Linked DNA regions of Homo sapiens: all the other regions are reported to be linked to region 1. Evidence: microRNA targets listed by miRTarBase, many of them from high-throughput screens and not tested one by one. Region 1 holds a microRNA gene; each other region holds the end of a gene's coding sequence.

What was found. The annotated mature microRNA hsa-miR-744-5p reads UGCGGGGCUAGGGCUAACAGCA and lies in region 1 at 2,611-2,632, shown strand. An mRNA with a match to its seed (bases 2 to 7 or 8) in the 3' UTR can be bound and repressed. Matches are read on the target gene's strand: a 7mer-m8 pairs with bases 2 to 8, a 7mer-A1 pairs with bases 2 to 7 and ends in A, and an 8mer does both.
Region 2: the mRNA of LDLRAD3 is a reported target of hsa-miR-744-5p. Seed matches in the 3' UTR shown: 7mer-m8 at 5,197-5,203.
Region 3: the mRNA of INO80E is a reported target of hsa-miR-744-5p. Seed matches in the 3' UTR shown: 7mer-m8 at 775-781.

What each region holds. Positions count from the first base shown.
Region 1 is chr17:12,079,299-12,086,492 of GRCh38, forward strand. MIR744 (microRNA 744) reads left to right here and starts at 2,601; the gene lies at 2,601-2,698. MAP2K4 (mitogen-activated protein kinase kinase 4) reads left to right here. Exons shown (of 11, transcript NM_003010.4): 3 at 2,058-2,232.
Region 2 is chr11:36,228,800-36,235,993 of GRCh38, reverse strand. It overlaps LDLRAD3 (low density lipoprotein receptor class A domain containing 3), which reads right to left. Exons shown (of 6, transcript NM_174902.4): 6 at 3,858-6,834. The coding sequence ends at 6,597. Among named protein-coding and RNA genes, the nearest start is that of COMMD9, 57 kb to the left of the region's middle.
Region 3 is chr16:30,004,696-30,011,889 of GRCh38, forward strand. It overlaps INO80E (INO80 complex subunit E), which reads left to right. Exons shown (of 7, transcript NM_173618.3): 7 at 526-1,096. The coding sequence ends at 747. It overlaps DOC2A (double C2 domain alpha), which reads right to left and starts at 6,332. Exons shown (of 11, transcript NM_003586.3): 1 at 6,208-6,332; 2 at 5,266-5,540; 3 at 4,783-4,862; 4 at 4,507-4,581; 5 at 4,301-4,410; 6 at 2,478-2,604; 7 at 2,336-2,395; 8 at 2,090-2,253; 9 at 1,901-1,982; 10 at 1,718-1,814; 11 at 819-1,636. The coding sequence starts at 5,527. The coding sequence ends at 1,491. RefSeq lists a silencer at 6,239-6,298.

The DNA.
Region 1 (7,194 bases):
AAATTTGATCTTTAAAATAAGACATAATATTGTAACTGTTTTCATTCTGTAATTTCTATATAGTAATGAAATATCTTTCATTTCAGTTCTCAAGAATGCTAGCATAAGTATTATATAGCAATGTAGTCATGAGAGTCATATTATATCATCTTTACCATATTCTCTTGGTTAGAGGTAAGTCACAGGTCCCACTCACACCCAAAGAAATATGCCTACACAAAAATACGAACACTAAGAAGGTGGGGATCATGAGGACTTCCTGGAGCCTGTCTGCCACAGCCCTTCAATTAGCGAACACTGTAAAAAATTTTGCTTCTGATTTACAAGTAATTTTAATTAACTTTTTTTCAGCTTCCCTCAGTGGTAGATTGGTGCTGTATATTTCACCAGTGATTTTGCCATTGAGATAGTATTTACTTGCCAAAGATTATAGAACAATAATCATTATACATGGAACTTCTTCATGTTAGAACTTTTTTCAGGCTTAATCTGTCTACTTCATGAAAAAGATTACCAAGAAGAGTTTCCTATTTTTGCCTAGACCTGATTTCCATCTTAAAAGATCAGTTCCAGCTTCATCTTCACCTAAATGGTCACTTATGCCACTGATTTCCGGGCTTCTTGTGATTCTGGATGCTAGAGTATCAAATAATATGGGTGAAAGGACTTTGAACTGAAAAGCACTTGTATGAATGAAAGCTTATCACTTAGTATGATTTGAAAGTCTGTTATTTGGAACACTGATTTAGTAAATTGTTATTTAGACCAAGTGTATGAATCTTTGAAGTGTAACTTTGAACCTTAATATTAGTACATACGATTATTCTCAGAGTGGGGGTAGATTTTAAAGTTCTAAGTTTTTTGGGAACCTTAAAGGTTGCTACAGAAAACCATTCTACTAATTGGAGAAAACTTTCCTAAATTTTGGAAGAAGAAAAATAATGACCAAGCACATAAACTTTGCTTGTTTGCATCATAGGATCAGAGTTTAAAAGAGATCCTGATCATTTAGTATGAAACTGAAAAATGTAGTTGATATTTAATGAATTCTTTCATTGTGTGTATGGTTGATAGTTTGTTCCTACACATTGGGGTTTGGTGTGTGTGTGAGAGAGAGCAAGAGAGAGAAACAGATTGATTTTACATTTTTCATTGGATTTACTTTTTTACAAAGCATGGTTAGAAGTTATTAATACTTTGATCTCCAGGTTGAGATTTTGGAGATGATTTTTTATTTAATGGAAATATGTAATGAGTGAGCTCTTTTGTCTACGAGCCACTCATTTTTTATCCCATTGCTTTATCGAACGAGGGCTGAAAATTTCAATTTTGAATAGCACATGGCAATTTTCCTCTTAGAGCCAGCTAGCTATTCAGTTAACTGTTCTCCCACCTCAGGATGGTATTAACAAGAACAGGACAGTATACTAAGGCACTAGTTCCCAAACATTACTGGAATCATCTGGGGGTCTTTAAAAATACTGTTTTCTGACTCCTGTCCCTGGATAATTCAGATGTAATTGCTATGGGACGATACCTGGGCATTGAGATTTTTAAAATCTCCCCCAGGTGATTGTAAGGTACAGCAAACCTTGGGAATAGTTGTACTAACTGAAGATTGAGGCACTGGAATAACTAATGTTGGGTAAGATAGGGTAAGAACTTTTTCGCAATAAGGTTTGCAGCTCTTGGGATTCTCACTTGATAATGCTGTTTGGATAAACCATCATCCAAGTTTGAATAAGATCTTATATTTAGAAATGAAAACTGATCTGCAGAATTAGTTTAATCAATAAATGGGAATTTTTAAAAATCTTCTTGGCAATTTGTTTTTATGAATCCCGTTGAAGCTGTGTCTATTGACTACCTAAATCTAGATCATTCTTAATCCAGTGTGTAAAAAACCAGGATGACACAAATGAAAAACTTCAAAAACCTGGAGGTCAGACTATTTTAGTAATTTAGAAAACATTTTTCCCACACATTAATCAGTACTAAAAGAAAAAAGTTAAAACCTATTTAAAATGTGGAAAAATTGCTTCCCAATATTTTAACAGAGAGAGACTGAGAACACACAGCATTGAGTCATCAGGAAAACTGAAGATCTCCCCTGAACAACACTGGGATTTCACTGCAGAGGACTTGAAAGACCTTGGAGAAATTGGACGAGGAGCTTATGGTTCTGTCAACAAAATGGTCCACAAACCAAGTGGGCAAATAATGGCAGTTAAAGTAGGTGATGCCATGATTATTTTTGGTACTTTAATCCATTAGGTGAAATTTCATGGTGCAGTAATACCACTGTTGTTGTGTTCCTACTTTTGTGGTAAATGTGGGTGTTTAAAAAATTGTTTCTCCAACTCCTTTGAGGGTGTTCTGTGTAGAGGTTTCTTATTGGTGGCACATTTTCTATCTCTTTGGAAACATGAGTGTATGAAGTGTGCATGTTGATTGCATTTTTGGCATGATGCATTAACATGTTTTAAACTTCAGGCCCTTCTACTGCCAAGGTGAGTTCAGGCTGGGCGGCTGCACCCCTGGGAGCAGGGCAGTGCTGCACTGAGCCAGGCGGGAGCTGGAAGAAGACGCAGCACACTGGGTTGGGCAAGGTGCGGGGCTAGGGCTAACAGCAGTCTTACTGAAGGTTTCCTGGAAACCACGCACATGCTGTTGCCACTAACCTCAACCTTACTCGGTCCTGACCGGCTCGGCTTCTGTTTGTTTATTTCATCTCTACTCAGTACTGCCCTGTTCCCTGGTTTTAAAGTTGTACTGAAATGCATACCTTGTGATAATGTTGTCACATTTTGTCCTTATTGTGTCGTGCCACTTAATATGTTCATTAAAAAAAAAAAATGGCCAGAAACAGAGATTTGATCCATAGACAATACCTGGCAAGCTTATGCTGGTACCTGTAAAGAACTGGTGGTTTCCATCTGACTCCTAGTTTCATGTAATTGTAATTTATTCATTTGTTTGTTTAGATGTTTAACAAATCTTTGCTGTATGTAAGATATTTCAGGAAAATCAGCAACAGGGGGAACAACTTGCAAAAACAAAGGAAAAAAAGCTAGCTGTGGCCATACCCTCTCTGAGCTTAAAATTCCTATGGGAACAAAAATGTTTCAGTTTACAAGAATTCAGAATGGATTTGCATATAGTCCAAGCTAATCATCTTCCTATTAGTGTCCTATTTTGAGAGTTTGTCAGAGTGGTTGATAAGAGTCCTTAGTTTTTTCTTGACATTTGAGAATGAATTTAAATTAAAATAAAATGCTTTCTGTGTAGAAGTCTGTTGTGAGCCAAACCTTACTGTAACTATTTTAGTATCCTTCACTGTTGAGCATTTCTTTTTGCTGGGTCATATGAAAGTAATGTTAAATTAGTGGTAGGGAAAATTTTTATGATTCTCTCTATGGGTTCCTAACATTGTTTTTGGCTGTATTTTTAAAATGTGGTGAGAACTATAGACTTTTCATAGGCAGGTGTATATACACAACATTTTGTATACAAACCGTAGACCTCTAAAGATGCACAGGTGAAGAACTCTGCATTATGTGTTAAAATAAAATGTTTTATTGGAATGTGAAATGATTTCTGTATTCCTATTTTGTGCCACTGCAGTGTAAGTGGAAAGAGTCATTTTATTTAGACTCCTGGATGAATGTTGTGTTGTCCCTTTGTGCTACCTGTGTGTGACATCCAGTTTTAGTTGGCTGGATCTTAAGGGAAAGGTTTCCTATATAGTTAAAGTTGTAAACTTTTCTTTCAGGTACTAGGGAAAGTAATTTTAAAAAATTATTTCCTGCTTTTTACAGTTTGTGTTATGTGTGCTTCAACTTTGTTGATGAACATTATTAAACATTTTAGTAATATGGATTGATTTTAGCCATTGTTAAAAAGGTCATAAAGGTAAAGAGGGTACTTCCTTTTGACACTTAAAAGTTTTTCTCACTGATTAATTTGATAATATTTTGGGTTGTATAATGCTTACTCAAGTTTTGTAGGAATTCAAGAATGAAAATAGGAAATTGTTGTCCATCATTTGTAATGTTACATTATCAGTGGCTACTGGCTACTGTGACAGTTCCAGTTGGGATGCTATTAAAAATCCCAGCTGTACTTGAAGAACTTTCAAGGCAGTCATGAGACCTACAAACTGGTTGCTGTCACATGTATACCCACCACATGGTACTACCTAGCTTCGTTTACCATCTCGAATTCTTGAACAAGCATAGCAGTTGGGGATGGGAGAGGATGGCAGTACAACACATCAATTAACATATAGTTGAGGAGTACCTTTGGATTCCATGACTTCATTAATACTGGAAGAATAAGTGTTTTTGCATTAATATGCATTAAAATTTGATACCAATTGATGACAGATGTATGCCATCTCTGAATTAAAGAATGCATTTATTATTGGTTTCTTCAAAGAAGAATAGTCTTTCATCACACTTGAGAGAGTTCATTCATTCCTCATTTAGGTACATTGACTGGATTGACAGGCACAAATATACAGAATCAATGTATGATTAAGGAGGTGTTTGATTTGAGACTTTACGGTTTTAAAGGAACCATGAGACGGTGGTTCACACAGCTGAGAGCTTTCCATTGCTGTTGGTGAAATGAGAAACACGCTTGAAGTAACTCTGTGCTAACATCTTAATACACACTTTGAGAATAAAGAAGGATTGCATTATTAGATGTTAAGCTGGAAATGATCCTTAAGATTTACTTGCAATATCTGTAGAAAAGTGAACTGTGATATTAGCTTGATTTTTTTCTTTGTATTATTCCTCATTTTTAGTTCTGAGGAATTCCTTCCCCAAATTTATTTTGCCATATATAAGAAATATTTGAAAAAGGTGACTTCTTAGTAACCAGAGTTAATTACCCCAAAGACTTAATCTAAAAATCAGTTTTGATATAATCAGATTTAGTGAGGTAACATTGTAAGAGTTATACTTAAAACAATTTTTTGATGTTTGGTTTGAGGACAGTCTCCCAAGCTATCGGTGAGTTTCTGCATTAGGACCTAAGATGTGAACATGGTTTACCCTTTAGTTTTAATTGCACGTGCTTGGGAAAAGGGTCTTGCTCTCCTGTGAGTGGGAGTAATTTGTATACTTGTGCCTGAATGACTAGTCTTAGGGCTGCCTAGGGCAAAGCCAGTGTTGCCTCTGGGGTTTCTTAAAGCTCAGGGAGAACAACCTTCAACTCTTACCAGGGATTTACTTCTAACTGTGATCAGTATCCTTTACAAATAACATTTATTTAGTGTCCTGTTTTGCACGGTGGTGGGGTAACCACTGAATGAAAACATTAGACATGAACAGTCACTGTCCTCTACATAAAGTAGGTGCCTGCTCAGCTCTCTGGCAGGTGGAAATGGGAGAGGATGGCAATACAACACATCAATTAACATATAGATGAGGAGTACCTCATCTATATGTTAACCAGCTCTCTGGTTAAATGTAGCGGGGTAAAGCCCAGAGTTCAGACCAAATGTTTGAAGAGGCAGTTAGGATTAGGTTTCTGAGCTAGGGTAATTCAGATCTGGGAGAAACACCTAGCATCATCAGTCAGAATCAGGATGCCACAGAAAATCTAGGGACACAGGAGAAAAGAGAGTAAATGAAATGTCACAGCTTAGACCATGGGCTTACAAGCTCAGATGGCTGACAGAGGGAAGAATGACTGTAAGCCTCTGATGCCTGACAGTATATTCTCCACCTGACTCTGCCTGCAGTGTAAAAAATCCTGCATGCCTAGAGTACCAGCTTCCCTGTTGTTTTCTAGCAGACTCATGTCCAGATTGACTTCTTGAAGGTATGCATGCCCTTTTCATGTTTGTAGAATATGTGCGAAAAACCAAAGAAACGTGAAAAAGTAAGAATGAAAATGAGAGGGAGTATAAGGACTGAAGTACCTGTCACTAAAGATGATGGCAGGCAGTGGAATCTGAATTGTTGTGTGAAGGGTTAATACTGTAATAAAGCTGTCATCTCATTGAAGAACTGAATAATATTGAGCAGGTAGGTGGGAATAAGAATGTGTCATGTTAAATTTGTCATTGTGGATCATTATGATGACTTTTCAGTCTTCTGCTTGAGAAATTATCTGGGTTAATCAGGAAAAACAGATCTGTTGTTTGAGGGTAGGTGCATAGGCCGGACTGAGTTAGCAATGTGACCTGGTATGCAAGAGTTTCAAGTATTTTCTTTCTGTTGGAGATCTGCCTAACTTGTCTTGTTCTTTTGAACCTCAGCTCTACCCTTTCACCTCTACTGTTTCATTGATGTGAGTCTTGCTGATTCTGGCCTGTTAACCTGATTTTGATTCCTGCAATCCTGCCTCTCCTTGATTATTTGGATTTTGACTTTAGTGTCCTTGACCTGGAGTTGAGACCCAGCCTAATCCTGATGCTTGATAGTAAGGACTAGAGCCCTCTGCTGACAGTATCAGCAGCCCACAGCTCAGCTGTTCCCTGAGTAGAACGGAACTTTAATCTGCTGGTTGAGTAGGCCTCCCTGGTGTAGATAGTATGGTGAGTATGGGAAGTCAGGTATCAGAAAAGTATGGCTTGGCTTGTTTTCCTGCCACTGGAGAGACCATGCCACTTCTGTCAAAAGTTCCATTACCAAATTATTTCAGTGGGGATTATGATGATGAATAATGATTTGAGGAGGTTCATTTTAGTGTTTAAACATTGGTCTTGCATGTTCTGAAAGCACTAGAATGATACTGGGATGGCCTTCAATTGGAAAAGTTCCTTTTTGATGGCATAGAGTGCTTTGTTAGGCCATTTTATTCACTTCCAAAGGGCCGCAGTGATCATATTTGATTATCCAAATCACCTATGGGATGCAGATGTCATGGCTCTTTTGTTTAGAATTGAGACTGTAGTCTAATATCTTAGGCCGTCGTTCGGTCAGATCATGTGACTTACTTAAGGCATCTGTGATTGAGCTGTATTCTTTTATGCTTCCTAATATTGCTTAAAAGCTGTGGTGGTCATATGAAAAGTGTAAGTAGAGCATTTCCAGGAGGAGACATATTCAAGGGGTGTGGCAGGGCTGGCCTCTAGGCAGCCTTGATTTTGAACTCAGGTTGCTTATGTAGATGGGGTTGGAATTCCCAGTATACATGTGTGCTTGTTTTGCTGTCACTCCAAGTTAATGTTTTTCAGAC
Region 2 (7,194 bases), not on the chromosome of region 1:
GTGTGTGTTGCTTCCAGGTCTGGCCCGTAAACACTGCCCATGCATGTGTGCTCCTTGGAATGCCTTTTCTCTGCTGGCTCACTGGGATGACTCACCGTCAACGGTGACCTTGAAAAGCATGTAAAGTCAAATACAGCCTGATATTAGAACTTTAGAGTGAATTATCCTTGCTCAGACTATAAACTCAGCCCAACTGAGGCATCAGTAATATTTAAATTAACATGCTTCCTCCAATATTTCATCACAGCTCCCCATGATTATACCTTCAAGCTCTCAATATAATGGAAACTCAGCCCCTCAGCTCCAGTGACACAAGCTGTTCCAAAATTTCTAGTGGATGGTTCTCTAGATATTGACACATCCTAACTTTCAGGTATAGACAAATGGTTAACTATGGAAAGCCTCATTAACTGCATGCATACTTGAGTCTAGGTCTTTAGGTAGCTTGATAAGGGTGATGAATGGGAATATATTTCTGATCCATCAGCTTAAAAATACTGTGAAGGATGGGGAAACTCTTGGCAGGATAATTGCCCCATTTCAGTGGTTGGGAGACAGTTCTGAGCCCAAGAGATATTTGGGGTATCTTTAGGGTAGAATTCCTCCTACACAGCTTATTCATGACCGTCTCACAAAAGTATACATGATCCAACCCCAACTTGAAACTAACCTTGCCTCATAGGTTTAAGGAAAGGCTGTTGAGTCTCCTGAAATTTTCACTGCAACGTTGCCTCTGTTTCTTTCAGACCATATAATGCCCATGGTTACATTGTCTGAAGCTTGTAGTTGTCTGCTATTTTCTTATGTATATTACAAATTGTACCAGCCAGTTGTGAGTCCCATTCTTTGGTGGGGGTTTACAGCAGATATATTGGTATTTGGTCTACTACCAGACTCTTTCCATATGGGAATTTTCTCTTTCCCACTTCATGTAATTCAGGTGGGGCTGTCAATCAAGGGACTGAGACCCACTCATAGTAGTGGTCACATGACCAAGAACAACCAATCGTGAGTCCGTTTAAAGGTTTCTATAGATGCTAGGAGAGAGTGCCTCTCCTGAGACTGTGAACCTGGGTTTTCTGGACTCTCTTTTCCATGAGCAAGCAGGGCTGAGAAACTGGCAAGGGAGGAACAAATTCCTAATGAAGGCTGTTGAGCAGCTGGATCCAGGTCTGCTTGAACCCAAAAGTTCCATAATCTTGGACTTGGTTGCTTTAGACAATATATCTTCTAAAATTTAATGCAATTAATCATGTATGAGTCAGATTTCTATAACTTACAACTAGGAGTTCTAATTAATGTCCTATGAACTTGTTTAGCTGTAGGATGTCAAGGGAGTCAGTATATTTTCTCACTGACCTTTTCCCTAAGGGTCTCACTGGGTGCATAGTTATGTACACTCATACACTTCCACTGCAGCCACCTGAATCTCTTTCTCATTCAATTCACTCTTAGAATCTACTGCTTTGCCTGTGGGTTGCAAGCTCAACGTAGAAAATGGACATACCACGTCACTCACTCCCATGGACCTTCTCTAAAAGACAGATTCCTGTAATCCCAGCACTTTGGGAGGCTGAGGCGGGTGGATCATGAGGTCAGGAGATCGAGACCGTCCTGGCTAACACGGTGTAATCCCGTCTCTACTAAAAATACAAAAAATTAGCTAGGTGTGGTGGTACACGCCTATTATCTCAGCTACTTGGGAGGCTGAGGCAGGAGAATCACTTGAACCTGGGAGGCAGAGGTTGCAGTGAGCCGAGATTGTGCCACTGCACTCCAGCCTGGGCAACAGAGTGAGACTCTGTCTCAAAAAAAAAAAAAAAAAGACAGATTGCTGTGTGAGTTCATGACCTTGAAGAACTCCCAGTAAGAGTAGTTTTTTGTTTTTTTTTTTTCCTAGGATTGCTATATTGAACCCAAATATTTAGGATTTCATTAAGAAAGCCTCTCTTCAGCTTAATCCTGTATCTTCTTATTTTGGAAGAGAACTAATAGGGGCCTTGAATTGTCTGCTTCATGAGTTTTTCTATTTTTAATTTTTTTTCTTTTTTGAGACGGAGTCTCGCTCTGTCACCCAGGCTAGAGTGCAGTGGCTCGATCTTGGCTCACTGCAAGCTCTGCCTCCCAGGTTCATGCCATTCTCCTGCCTCAGCCTCCCAAGTAGCTGGGACTACAGGTGCCCACCACCACGCCCGGCTAATTTTTCTTTTTTTTTGTATTTTTAGTAGAGATGGGGTTTCACCATGTTAGCCAGGAAGGTCTCAATCTCCTGGCCTCATGATCCGCCCACCTTGGCCTCCCAAAGTGCTGGGATTACAGGCGTGAGCCACCACACCCGGCCTATTTTTAATTTTTTGAGATTGGTGTCATTTCAAGGGTTCTAGTACTCCAAGCCATTAACACAACTGTTTCTTCTCTTCAGTGTCCTTAGCTTTACATCTATGAACCCAATGTGGAAGTGATCCTTTAGATTACTGACAAACCACAGCCCACAGGTCAAATCCCACCAGTAGCCTGTTTTTGTAAATAGTTTTCTTGGAACACAGCCACATCCATTCAATTTTGTATTGTCTATAGCTGCTTTTGCAGTTGCTACAGAAACCACACGGCCACAAGCCAAAAATATTTATTCTCTGGCCCTTTAGAGAAAGTTTATCAACCCCTGCTCTAGCTGAGTATTTTACAATCATTGCAAAGCACTAGCATCCATAAAAAATGCTCATCTTGGCATCCATAAAAATGGTATTCATGGCTGGGCGTGGCAGCTCACGCCTGTAATCCCAGCACTTTGGGAGGCCGAGGTGGGCGGATCACGAGGTCAGGAGGTCAAGACCATCTGGCTAACACGGTGAAATCCTGCCTCTACTAAAAATGCAAAAAAAAAAAAAAAAAAAAAAAATTAGCCGGGCATGGTGGTGGGTGCCTGTAGTCCCAGCTACTCGGGAAGCTGAGGCAGAAGAATGGCGTGAACCCGGGAGGCGGAGCTTGCAGTGAGCTGAGATCACGCCACTGCACTCCAGCCTGGGCGACAGAGCGAGACTTCATCTCAAAAAAAAGAAAAAAAAAGGTATTCATAAGGTACCTCGAGGGATGATGAAATGAGTAACTTGACAAATCTTTGGGGCTTGGGAAAGTCTACTCTACATCACTTGGGGCAGGGCATGACATAGCATATATTTGGGATACACATGCCTGACAGCCCAGTCTTCATTTGAGGAATCTGGGATCAATACATGATCCAAATCTTGGTACTGTGGGTCTTGCATTTGGATTTCCATGTGGATTTCATTTCGGCCAGGGCTGGAGTTACTGTCCCTGTTCATGATGGTGGTGCTGGTGACCTATGGGGCATCCTAACTTCCTTCCCAGGCAGATGTCCCTGCTGCATTGGCCAACATGTGGCTCCAAAACTAGACTTAAAAAAGCATAAAGATGTTCCCATCATTGATGGGGACAATCTGAGCCATTTGTGTTTTGAAACTAATTACTAGCCCACCTATCCAAGAGCTATAGTGTGCTCCTGAATATGTGGTCAGAATCTGTTACAGTTATCACAGCTACTTGTCCTTTTCCCTTGAACAATGCTGTAGCAAAGGCAGAAACACCCATCTTCCAATATGATTTCCCAGGGCCCATTACATTAACTGGTGTCCACAACTTTGCCTCTGTATTCCAATCATATCAGCTGCAGAATCCTGAAGCATCCATCACATTTTGAGGTCCCACCAACATATTCTTCCTTTTTCTCATTTTATTATGGCATAAATTCATTGCAAAAGCTATGACAGAAGTGACTGTCCACTGTTTATATTGCTATAAGGGAAATGAGTGGGTCAAGGACCATTTGCACAAACAGAAAGAATGAAACTGCAAATTTATTAGAAAGTATAAAAATTAAAAAACAAAACCAAGCCTAACCAAAACACAAAAAGCAACGACACACAACCTTTCCAGTTTACATTAACTTTGAGCGTCACACACTATTAACCACTTAGTTGCATTTTTTAAAAATGTCAATTTCAAGGTAGAGGGAGCTGAGTCAGGTAATAGGCCAGTCATCACAGTGTAACTAATTTAATGCTAAAATAAAACACGGATCTCATTTGAGAAAAAAAGAGATGAGACTATTTTCTGGTTGGCGTAGATTTAGGCAATGTATAAAAAAGCTTCCTGGTTGGAATGAGTTAAAAAATATTGCTGGCCACTAATGTGCCATCTTGAGTTGGAAAACAAACCCCCTCCCCCCCAAAAAAACCCTGCCGCTTTGGTGTCCTATTTATATATTTTTAAAAACATTCATTAAAAAAATCAAATCTATAATAAAAATGTCCCTGTTTGTTTTAAAAAAGCATTAGTAGGCATCCCTTATCTACTAAAACCATTTGTTTTTCCTAAGATGCCTGGAAGCAGAAAAGCGAGTGAGATTAACTCACTGCGCAATTAATTAAAATTAGAATTCTTTCCTCTAAACAACTTCCAGAGCACCAGAAAGAAGAAGGGGCCCCATCAAAGGGAGAAATAAAGCCCTTCTGACTCACAGGAGATGAAATGTTCAGCCAGAGTTCTAACACATTCTGGCTGTCATCAAAAGTTCTTTATTGGATTACTCAGAAAATAACTCAAGTGCTATTTTAAAAATGAAAGATACAGGCAGCTAGGTTCCTTTCCGTTTTTCTTTCTTTCTTTCTTTCTTTTTTTTTTTAAACAAAACAAAATACCAGTGGCTAGCTTTTCTGTAACATCCTTTGGATTTGGTTAAAAAAAGAAAGAAAAGTCTACAGAACAGGATCACTGAATGCCACTTTAGCCCCACTTCCTGCAGGCTCTGTTTTAATTAGCGTCAAACAGGTTACTGAACATTTCTTCAGCTGCGGAAAGAAGTTCTGAATGGGTGACAGCTGCCCGGAGTGGCTCTACCTGGTTCCATTTTACCCCTCATCAGTCAGTGTGGTTTCTTGCCAAACAACACCTAACGTTTTACCCCTTATTCCTGCAGGGAGGCGGGCCCTGTGGCTGACTGGACACAGAGAAAAAAAAGAAAAACTAGCACAAACATAGAGACTATACACGGAGGGAGAGAGGAGTCCCTCTTTCTGCTTCCTTCAAGAACTTGATAAATAATAACCTCAAAGTGCAACAATGCACAAATGTCTGGCACACAGGTTAGTCTGGAGTGACTTGTTATCACGGGGCTCAGCGGGGCAAGGGTGTGATCTCCTTTTGCATCTTTCTTTGGACCTTGTTAAAGGAAAAACAAAAAAAGAGACAGCTTTCCTATACACATATAAATAGTCCCTTAACTAGAAGGGAAAAAACAAACACACTGTTTCAAATGCATTTCTAAAAGATTTAAAATAGATCCAAATGGAAAATCTTGACTCCAAATTGTCTCTTGCCCATGTGTCTCAGAGGAGAAACTACTGGGATGTTGGGAGAGGCCTGACCCTGACCCTAACTCTAACTAGAGGTGCTGGTATTGGGACCTTGGGAAGAGGAGCGTGCACAGTGCAGGGAGCCAGGAGAGCTTGCTGGAGGTATTGAACATGGCTCTCACCTGTGATAGAAACCAGTGTCCTCAAGTCCAAATGCACAGGTAAAAAGGACTTTGCAAGTGTTAAGGGAACTTTGGAGGCCAGTGTTGAGGCTGCATGAATGAGCAAGACAGGCTGGGTGTGGGCCACAGGGACATACAGCCAGGTCAGACTTTGGGCCAACTCAAGTTAGGTCCTCATTCCTTGGCTACGGGCAGGTCAGCTGGGAGGGTGACAGTCCAGAAACCAGGTAAGTGGCTGTAGAGCCAGGGCAGGTGTAGGGTCTTGGCAGCCTGCATTTTAGGAGCTGAGAACTTGGATAAACTCATGGGAGGGGCTCCCTGCCTATTTTAGGATGAGGCTGATGATATATGCTGCTGAGGAAAGCTCTCAGAATGAGCATTCTTGGGCAAATTTCTAAAGCCAGAATTTATACAGGGTAGATGGTTTCAGAGTCCTTCACAAAACCAAAATAACGTTGCGACTGCTGAAGGGTGTTACTCACGTCCAAAGTTTTCTTTGGCCACTGACTCTGCTGAACTGGGGGCATCAAATAGGATTGTGCAAAGCAGGTTTTGATGCTCAAATGGAATTTTTTTGGGGGGGTGACCATCCAGTGATGGCCTCCTGGTTAGATCATCTAACCCAAATCCCCAAATGCTATAAGGTAACTACCCAGCAGAGAGAATTGGGTCCAGCGTCTCCTGCACTTCTGAGCATCCAATATAGCACAGAAACATTGCTCTCTCCCAGCCTATTTCAATACTGTTTTATATGCTGTCTCTCCAACAGAAACAGAATAATGTGAAAAATGAGGGTGTGATCTCGGGTCCCAAGGGAAGAGTGACCTGACAGAAAAGACGCACAACAGATCATGTCAACTGAGACGCCAGAAAAACATCTCTGAAGTCTGGGGGAGGAGGGGAATGCAGAGATAGTTAATATCCCAAACTGTAACTTGAGACACCCTTACAGGTGCTTAAAGAGCTTCCCATGAGCACAAATTGTTAGAATGGCAACAAGTCAGAGCAGATTAACCCATATGGACTTTGGAATAACTGGGACTTATACTTCTTCAGTGCCCTGGCTGGGCTCAGAGTCCCTGGGCTCAGCAGTGCCCTCCTGGGGGCCAGGCTGCCCCGGGCTGTGGCTGGTGTCTTCCACGCTCAGGAGGCTGCTGGCTGCCTGGGAGCTGGCACTGTTGGCACTCCCGGACCGGGAGCGGTAGGGGGGCAGGTCGGCTTGGTTCAGAGATTCCGTGTCAGAAGAGTAGGGCGGTGGAGGAAGGTCATACCACGCAGGCCTGTGATGGGGACAGCAGGGGGGCAGGGGCAATGGAGACAGGAAGAGAAGAGAACACATTAGGGCCAAGATAAGCCAACTTCAGCCCATTTCTGAGACAGTGTTTCCAGTGCGAAATGAGATTTTTCCCTCCAAGTACAAAGACAATTAATTCAAGGACCAGGAACCACATCGGAACAGAAAAGGCCAGTGTGTTCTGGCTGGTTGGTGTTGACCGGACGGTGCCAAAACCACATCCTCTGGGTAGAACCAGAATGAGGTCGCCCACCAAGTCCCTCGGCTCAACCTGGGTGGTTTGGCATTGCCACTCTGCTCCATCAGCCAAAAGCCCTGTGGCCAAGAGGCTGGGCTGGTATCTTGA
Region 3 (7,194 bases), not on the chromosome of region 1:
CGGGACCCCGAGGAGGGGCCCATCCAAGACATAATACAAGCTTCTTGGGGGCAGATAAGCCGCTGGGGCTCCTGGCTCAGGCAGCCTGCAATACCCTCCACCGAACCAGTGAGTGCCGCAGAAGAGGGAGAGGAGGAGTAGGGAGAGGAAGCTGGTGGCAGGTGGCACCTCCGGGGCCGGCAGGCAGGCAAGCACTCCAGGCCGACTCCGCCTCTGGCTTAACCCCTGTCTCAGGGCAGCCCAGGCGCCTCCCTGGAGAGGGCAGGTGCCCGGGCCTTTCCCTCCCGGTTTCCTGTGAGACACCCCCATCCCCTCATCTCACCTCTATCACCACCCCCAGGCACTTGCTGGTTTGAGGCTCTCGAGGGGCTGAGGGGGGCAGGCCCTGAGTGCAGCATGGGTTGGCCCAGCTGTGCCCAGGGCCTCTTCCCCCTCCCCAGAGCTGCCCTGGGGGGCAAAGCCTAGTCTCCTGAGGCCCCAGTGCCTCCCTGACTAGTCCCCCTGTGTTTCTTCCCCCTGCTGCAGATGGCGGTGGGACCCCCCGACTGCCCTGTGGGAGGGCCGCTGACCTTCCCTGGCCGGGGTTCTGGGGCTGGGGTCGGGACAACCCTGACCCCCCTCCCACCCCCTAAGATGCCCCCCCCCACGATCCTGAGCACGGTCCCTCGGCAGATGTTCAGCGATGCAGGTAGCGGGGACGATGCCTTGGATGGAGACGATGACCTGGTGATCGACATCCCGGAGTGACCGTGACATCACGCCATGCCCACCACGGCCCCGCCCGGCGCCCTCCCCGTGCCAGCACACACGAGTCCAGCTTCCTCGGAGGTGTTTATTGATGCCCAGCTGCCATGCTCCGGCCACTGACACAACCAGAAAAGGCGTAAACATGCACGGGTGTCCCCCAGGAGGGTGGCAGGGGCCCTGCCTTCAAACCCCGGCCCCCTCCAGGGGACAGTTATTTAAACGAGTGGCCGGGAGCATCTGCCACCTGCTGGGGAGGCAGAGACCCTGCAATGGCCACCTCTTTAAAAGGGCAGCTGTACAGGGCTAGGTTTTTTCAATGAAGTTTCTGTATTAAAGGAGTGGCTCTGGGTTTGTTTTTTGTCCTTTTTTTTTGAGACATTCTCCTCCTCTGAACCTCCCCTAATCCGACCTCCTCCCTGTTGGGGGAGAGGGACGGGGCAGCGTGGAGAGGCAGGAGTGAGGAGCGCGGGGGCCTGGGGCCGGGCTCTGAGCACTGCCCGGGTGTGCAGATGATGGGGGGTTTGCATATTTGCAGGGACTAGCGAGTCAGGCAGGAGGTTTGCATATGTGAATATAGAACTCCGCAGCCCCTCATGAGCAGACAGACCCGGGTCACGGAGACTCACAAAAATAGGTAGTGCAGGGTGGGGGCAGCCCACCCTGTGTAAACGTGCAACACACTCGTGCGAAGGTTGGGTACTGGACCCGGCTCGATGGGCCTGTGCCGGGACACTGCTGTCCACTCAGGCTGAGGACAGAGCCCCGGCCGCAGGGGGCAGCTCACTGGTCAGGGTGTGCCAGCGCTCCAGGGCTGCGTCCGGCTGCTGCAGGCAGTCACTCCAGTGCTTCCGAGCCTCGCCTCGGGCACCTGGCCCCAGGGACACGCCACCTGGGGAGCAGGTGGGCAGGGTCAGGGCCACCTCCCTGCCACTTGCCCGCCCTCAACACCCGCAGCCAGCTCCTCCCTCACCAATGAAGTCATTGGATTTGCCAATGTCATAGTCCCAGACGGTGACTTCCAGGGTCTTGGTGGCCAGAGTGGAGAGCTCTATCTCGTAGAAAAACTCCTAGGGACAAGGCCGGCCACCCGTTCGTGAGCCAGCTCCCCAGCCCCTCCCTGGCCTCCCTCCATGTCCCGTCCCCTCCTGGGTACCTCGTTAAATTCTGGGTTGAGAGTCTTCTTCTTCACACACGTCTTATGCTTGGATTTCTTGTCCACATCGGGCCTCAGGTACCTGGGGGTGGGGTGGAGGGAGACGAACTGAGGGGTGAGGGACAGGCCAGGCCCAACTCAGGCCAGGGCAGGCTCCCTGGGGAGGAGAGGGTCAGAGCAAGGGCTCACGTCTTGACGTAGGGGTCCGAGTAACCGTTGACGTCCATGGCAGCCAGATGGGCGCAGCGCAAGATGCCTACCAGCAGTCCCCGGCGCCGCGAGCTGTAGCTGAGACTCAGCAGGATGCGGCCACGCTCCTCCAGCAGCCCCTGCCCCTGCTCCGCCTGCTCCAACTGCGGGGCACAGACTCAGGGTCAGCCTGGGCCCCTGCAGCCTCCCACCCACATGCATCCCCATCCCCATGAGGTGCCTCACCTCCTTCAGATAACAGGAGATGCCCCTCAGCGCCGCTGACATGGAAGAGGGGGACGCCAGCTGAGGGGGCAAAGAGAAGGTTCTGGAAGCCTGGCCTCCCCAGGGCCCCCTCCCCTGGCGCCCCTGCAGCCCCCACACAGACCGGGACCTGGCGCTCGAGGCAGATGTTAAAATGCTTCTTCTGCGAAGGCTTGAGGCGGCGGAGGGGCACGCGGATCTCCCCAATAAACTCATTGTGACTCAGCTTGTCCTCATCACAGACGGCGATCCTGGTCGGGAACTGCAGTGTCAGGGCCCCTGGGGTACCTGAGCCCCGTTCCGGGGTGTAGGAAGGGCCTTGGACCAGCCCAGCTCTGCCCTAAACACTACGTCTCATCTGGAAGACAGGCTGGCACTTGAGAAGGACAAGCAGATTTGCCCATTCCTCTGTCCCTCCCTCTGCAGCCACCCGGCTGTCCCTGGTCCATCAGGACATGCTCAGCCATTGTGGGAAGCCCTCAGAAATCTTGGAGCACGCTGCTCACTGCCTCCATTCAGGGCCTGGGGGCAGGAGCCGAACACCACGGTGGATGTGGCCATAGACACAGGCCGTGAGAGCTAGAAGGGCCTTGGAGCCTTGGGCAGCCAGACCAGTACCCCACGCCTCCTCGGGAACCCCCGTCCTTTTCCTGCATGCAGCAGAGAGCCAGCCCCGCAGGGACTCACTAAGAAATGATTGCTTTCCAGCCACCTGTCCTCCTGCAGTCCCTGCCCTGCCTCCGCAGTGACCCACTACCAGGCTGGGCATCTGTGGCATGGAGGATGGGCAGATCCCAGCCCTGCCACTTCTGAGCCACCTGTGTGACCTTGGGCAAGTCACTTGATCACCCTATGCCTCAATTCCCATCTGTAAATGGAGATAGTCAAGGGAAAGAAAGAAATGTGAAAATGCTAAGCCTGGGCTGGGCCCTGGTGAGCGCTCATTTTTTGGTCTCATTCTGGTTTTGGCCTCTGGCCTCCCCTCCATTCCACCCGAATAGCTGAAACCAAGGTGGCCTCTCTGCTGCACAGCCCTGACCATCAGGGAAGGTCCCAGCTGCAAATCCAAGCACAAAGGCAGAGGTCTCTCCAGAGCCTGGGTTTCGCTGCCCGCCACCTGACTTGAGGGAGTACTCTCCCTACATCTCCATCTCCTAGGATGACGGAGCAAGTTCCCTGTCCCTGAAGACTTCACTCCTTAAGAGATTTTAGGGGAACTCAAGGCACGGAAGGGGCAGACCAAAGCTGCAGAGGTCTGGCTTAAGCCAAGGGCTCTGAGAAGGGGTCTCGGCAACCCAGGAACGTTTTTGGGAGGGGGCAGAGCTTGGACTGAACCTCAGATGAGCGGAATTTAGGCTGGCAGGAAGGAGCTTTCCAGATAGAAAACAACAGGAAAAGTTCAGGAGTTGTGGAACTGGCCAGTTGGAAGAAGGGAGTCCTCTGTTTGAGGGGCAGAAGATACTTTTGTTTTGTTTTTGAGATGGAGTCTCCATCACCCAGGCTGGAGTGCAGTGGTGCGATCTCGGCTCACTGCAACCTCTGCCTCCCGGGTTCAAGTGATCCTCCTGCCTCAGCCTCTCGAGTAGCTGGGATTTACAGGTACATGCCACCACGCCCGGCTAATTTTTGTATTTTTAGTAGAGACGGGGGTTTCACCAAGTTGGCCAGGCTGGTCTTGAACTCCTGACCTCAAGTGATCCGCCCACCTCGGCCTCCCAAAGTGCTGGGATTACAGGTGTGAGCCACCACACCTGGCAGGCAGGAGATATTGAGGGGCAGGAATGGCAGGGAAGAATTTTGGCCTGCTGCCAAAGGGGCTAGGGAGCCGCTGATGGTTCTTGAGCATCAGAGAGGTACGGGCTTAATGGGACATAGATCAACCAACCAGCGGTTACAATGTCAGCTGTCCCCGAGCTGCTGCTGGGTGGTGGGGAGGGGGGCCCTCACCTGAGCACCTTGTGCGTGATGTCGTCATCTGTGATCCCGCTGTAAGTCAGGTCCTCATTCCACACGGGATTCAGTGTGTTCCTCTGAGTCTTCGTTTTTAGCTTATTGGCCTGGGATGTGGGGATGAAAGGTTCTCAATACCTGTCCTCCAGCCCCACAGGCTGGAGTCATGGGCTGGGCCGGGCGGGGCGAGAGGAGGCTGTTACCTTACAGGCTCCAGGCAGCAAGTGCAGCTTGACGTAGGGGTCGGCGAGGCCATTGAAATCCATGGGCTTGAGGCCCTGGAGAGGAGGGCAGGGGAGAGGGCTAGAGGCTCCCGGCACCTCTCTCCATCCCTCTTGTAGAGCTGGACCCTGGAGGAGCCCAGAAGGAGGGGGCAAGGGCAGGACGAAGGAGCAGGCCTGGGAAGGGAAGGAGGAATGGGCCCCCTCTGGGGGCTGCACGCAAACCGGGCCCGGGCTTGGGTGGCAGGGAGTGCCCACCTTGGCCCTGAGGATGCTACAGTGCAGAGTGCAGGAGGCCCGGTCGTAGAGAAGGTCAAACTCCAGCGTGCCTAGGGCGGCTGGAGAGAGAGGAAAGGCAGCATGGGTCGGTATGGAGACAGGTGTGTGCGAGAGGCCAGCAGGTGGGCACTGGCTCTGTGTGTCTCTCTCTCTTGCCAGCCCGCGAGTGTGAGTGCAAGAGGCTGAGTGGGCCCATGCGTGTGTGCGTCTGGGTCCCTGGCTCGGCCGCAACTGGGGCTGTGTGGGTGGTGGAGTGTCTCAGCAGAAATACTGAATATTGAGCCTTGCTGAAGCTGTAATCTCCACGCTGACTGCAGCTGTGGTGGCCGTCCCTGCCACCCCCCCACTGCCCTCCTCCCCTACCTACATGCACAGCCAGCAGGGCCCATCCCCCTCTCCCCCCACCACGGCAAGCCTGGAGACCCCCACCAGCACATGGGGCCTCCAAGCCCCCAGACTCACTGGCATCATCCGAGTCATAGCTGTCCACCTCCGCACCATCCTCAGGCGTGGTGGCCCCAAGGAGGGCTGCAGGGGGGGCCAGAGCCAGGGGGACCAGATGGGCGGGGGCCTCCCCGCCGCCCCCGCCGCCCCCTTCAGGTCCTGGTCCCCGGGGGAAGTAGTCAGAGATCTGGCGGATGGGCCGGATGGGCCCGGGGCACACGTTGATGGCCATGTGCTCCTGGATGTTGATGGTCATGCGATCGCCCCTGCGGCCCCTCATGCAGCACCCCTGGCTAGGAGAGGGCGTGTGAGCCAGTGAGCCCATCATACCTAGCCATCCTGGCTGAGGGCCAGGCGACGGCCTCCTCGGTCTGTGGGGCCCTCACTGGCCTCCCTTCCTAGGTGTCGAGGGAGAGGGTGGTGTGTGCCAGCCGGTGGCAGGTGGGAGGCCTGGGCCCTGCAGACCCCAAGCTGACTCCACAGGGGCTGGGCTGCCAACCCACTCCTTGCAGAAGTCGAGGTTGCACCACCCCGTCCTCACCCACCCACTTCTAGGTTGTCCCTGTATCATCTTGCCAGCTCCTTCCTCTCCTCCGGGGCTCCCCTCTGCTCCTGAGCCTGCCTGTCCCCCAAGGGGCCCTGCAGGGCCCCGCCTCTGTTTCTCGGAGGCTCTGTCCTCCTCTGCACCAGGCGCTGGTCTAGTCAGGGTGTCACCCACCCCTCTAGGCTCCAACTGCCCACTGTCCCCTCATTCAGCCCCAGGACCTGTCTGCCTGCCTGGTTCCCCCGCTCGCTCACCACAGCCCACGGTGGAGACCCCAGCCTCAGATGCCACCTCTGGCTCCTCAGGGGAGCCAGAAATTGCAGCCGCAGGAGAGCCGAACACCCCCGTAGCGCACACAGGCTGGCACGCTTCCCCGCACCCTCACGCCCCCGGCCTGCCCAGCCCCCTGCACCTGCCTCTGCCTCCAACAGGTGCCCAGGCACTGGGGGGACGGCGGGCGCAGGCTGGGCGGCGGCGGCCGGCGAGGAGAGCGCGGAGTCGAGCTGTGCGAGCCGAGAGGGAGGGAGCGCCGAGAAAGTGCGGGGAGGAGGGGGTGAGCGAGGTGGAGGCGAGGATGCAGCCGGCGCGGCGGCGGGGGACGGGGAGGGGCGCTGGGGCTGGGGAGGGGGCGGGATCTCGGACTCCCACCCGGGGCCCGCTCGGGAGCGCACGCGAGCGCGCACACACACGTGTGCTCGCGCGCGCACACTCACGCAGGGGCACGCGGACCGGCACACACTCGTGTGCACACATCCAACCGGGCACCCCCGCGCGCACACGCCCGTGCCCACGTGTGCACGCTCACACCCTTGCACACACCCAGGCGCGCGCTGGCACACTTACCCGGAGAACTTCGCACACACACGCACTCGCAAACACGCGGGCTCCCTGCGCCACCAGGAAGCAGCCGCCAGAATCGCCGGGTGTTCCCCAACTACTCCTGGGAGACCTGGCCCCCCGCCCCCGCCCGCGCGCGCGGCCACGGCGCCTCCCTCCCTCCCGGGTCCCCAAGGCCGGACCACCGGCCTCGTTGTCATGGCGACGCCGGCTCATCTCCCCCCACCCCCGCGCGTCTTCACGCCCCTCCCCCGCAGGGAGCTGGGGCCTCCCTCCTCCCTTCCCCACGTCCGTAGGGACCCACAGGTTGACAGGAGCAGGGGGTCGCCTGCTGTCACCGGCCGGGGATCTCGGGGTCTCCCGAGCCAGGCTGGGGAGCCTCACGATCTGAGGGAGGAGGCAGAGGTCTGATGCTGCGGCTTCCCCCACGCCCCCTCCCTTTGGCCGTTCAGGCCTCTCTCCTTGTGGCCCAACCCAACTCCCAGGGGCCCATGTCCCCTTACCAGGGATGGTATCTCCTTTGGGAACCACCCTCCCCCCTGCCATCCCCAGTTCTGCCCCGCAGG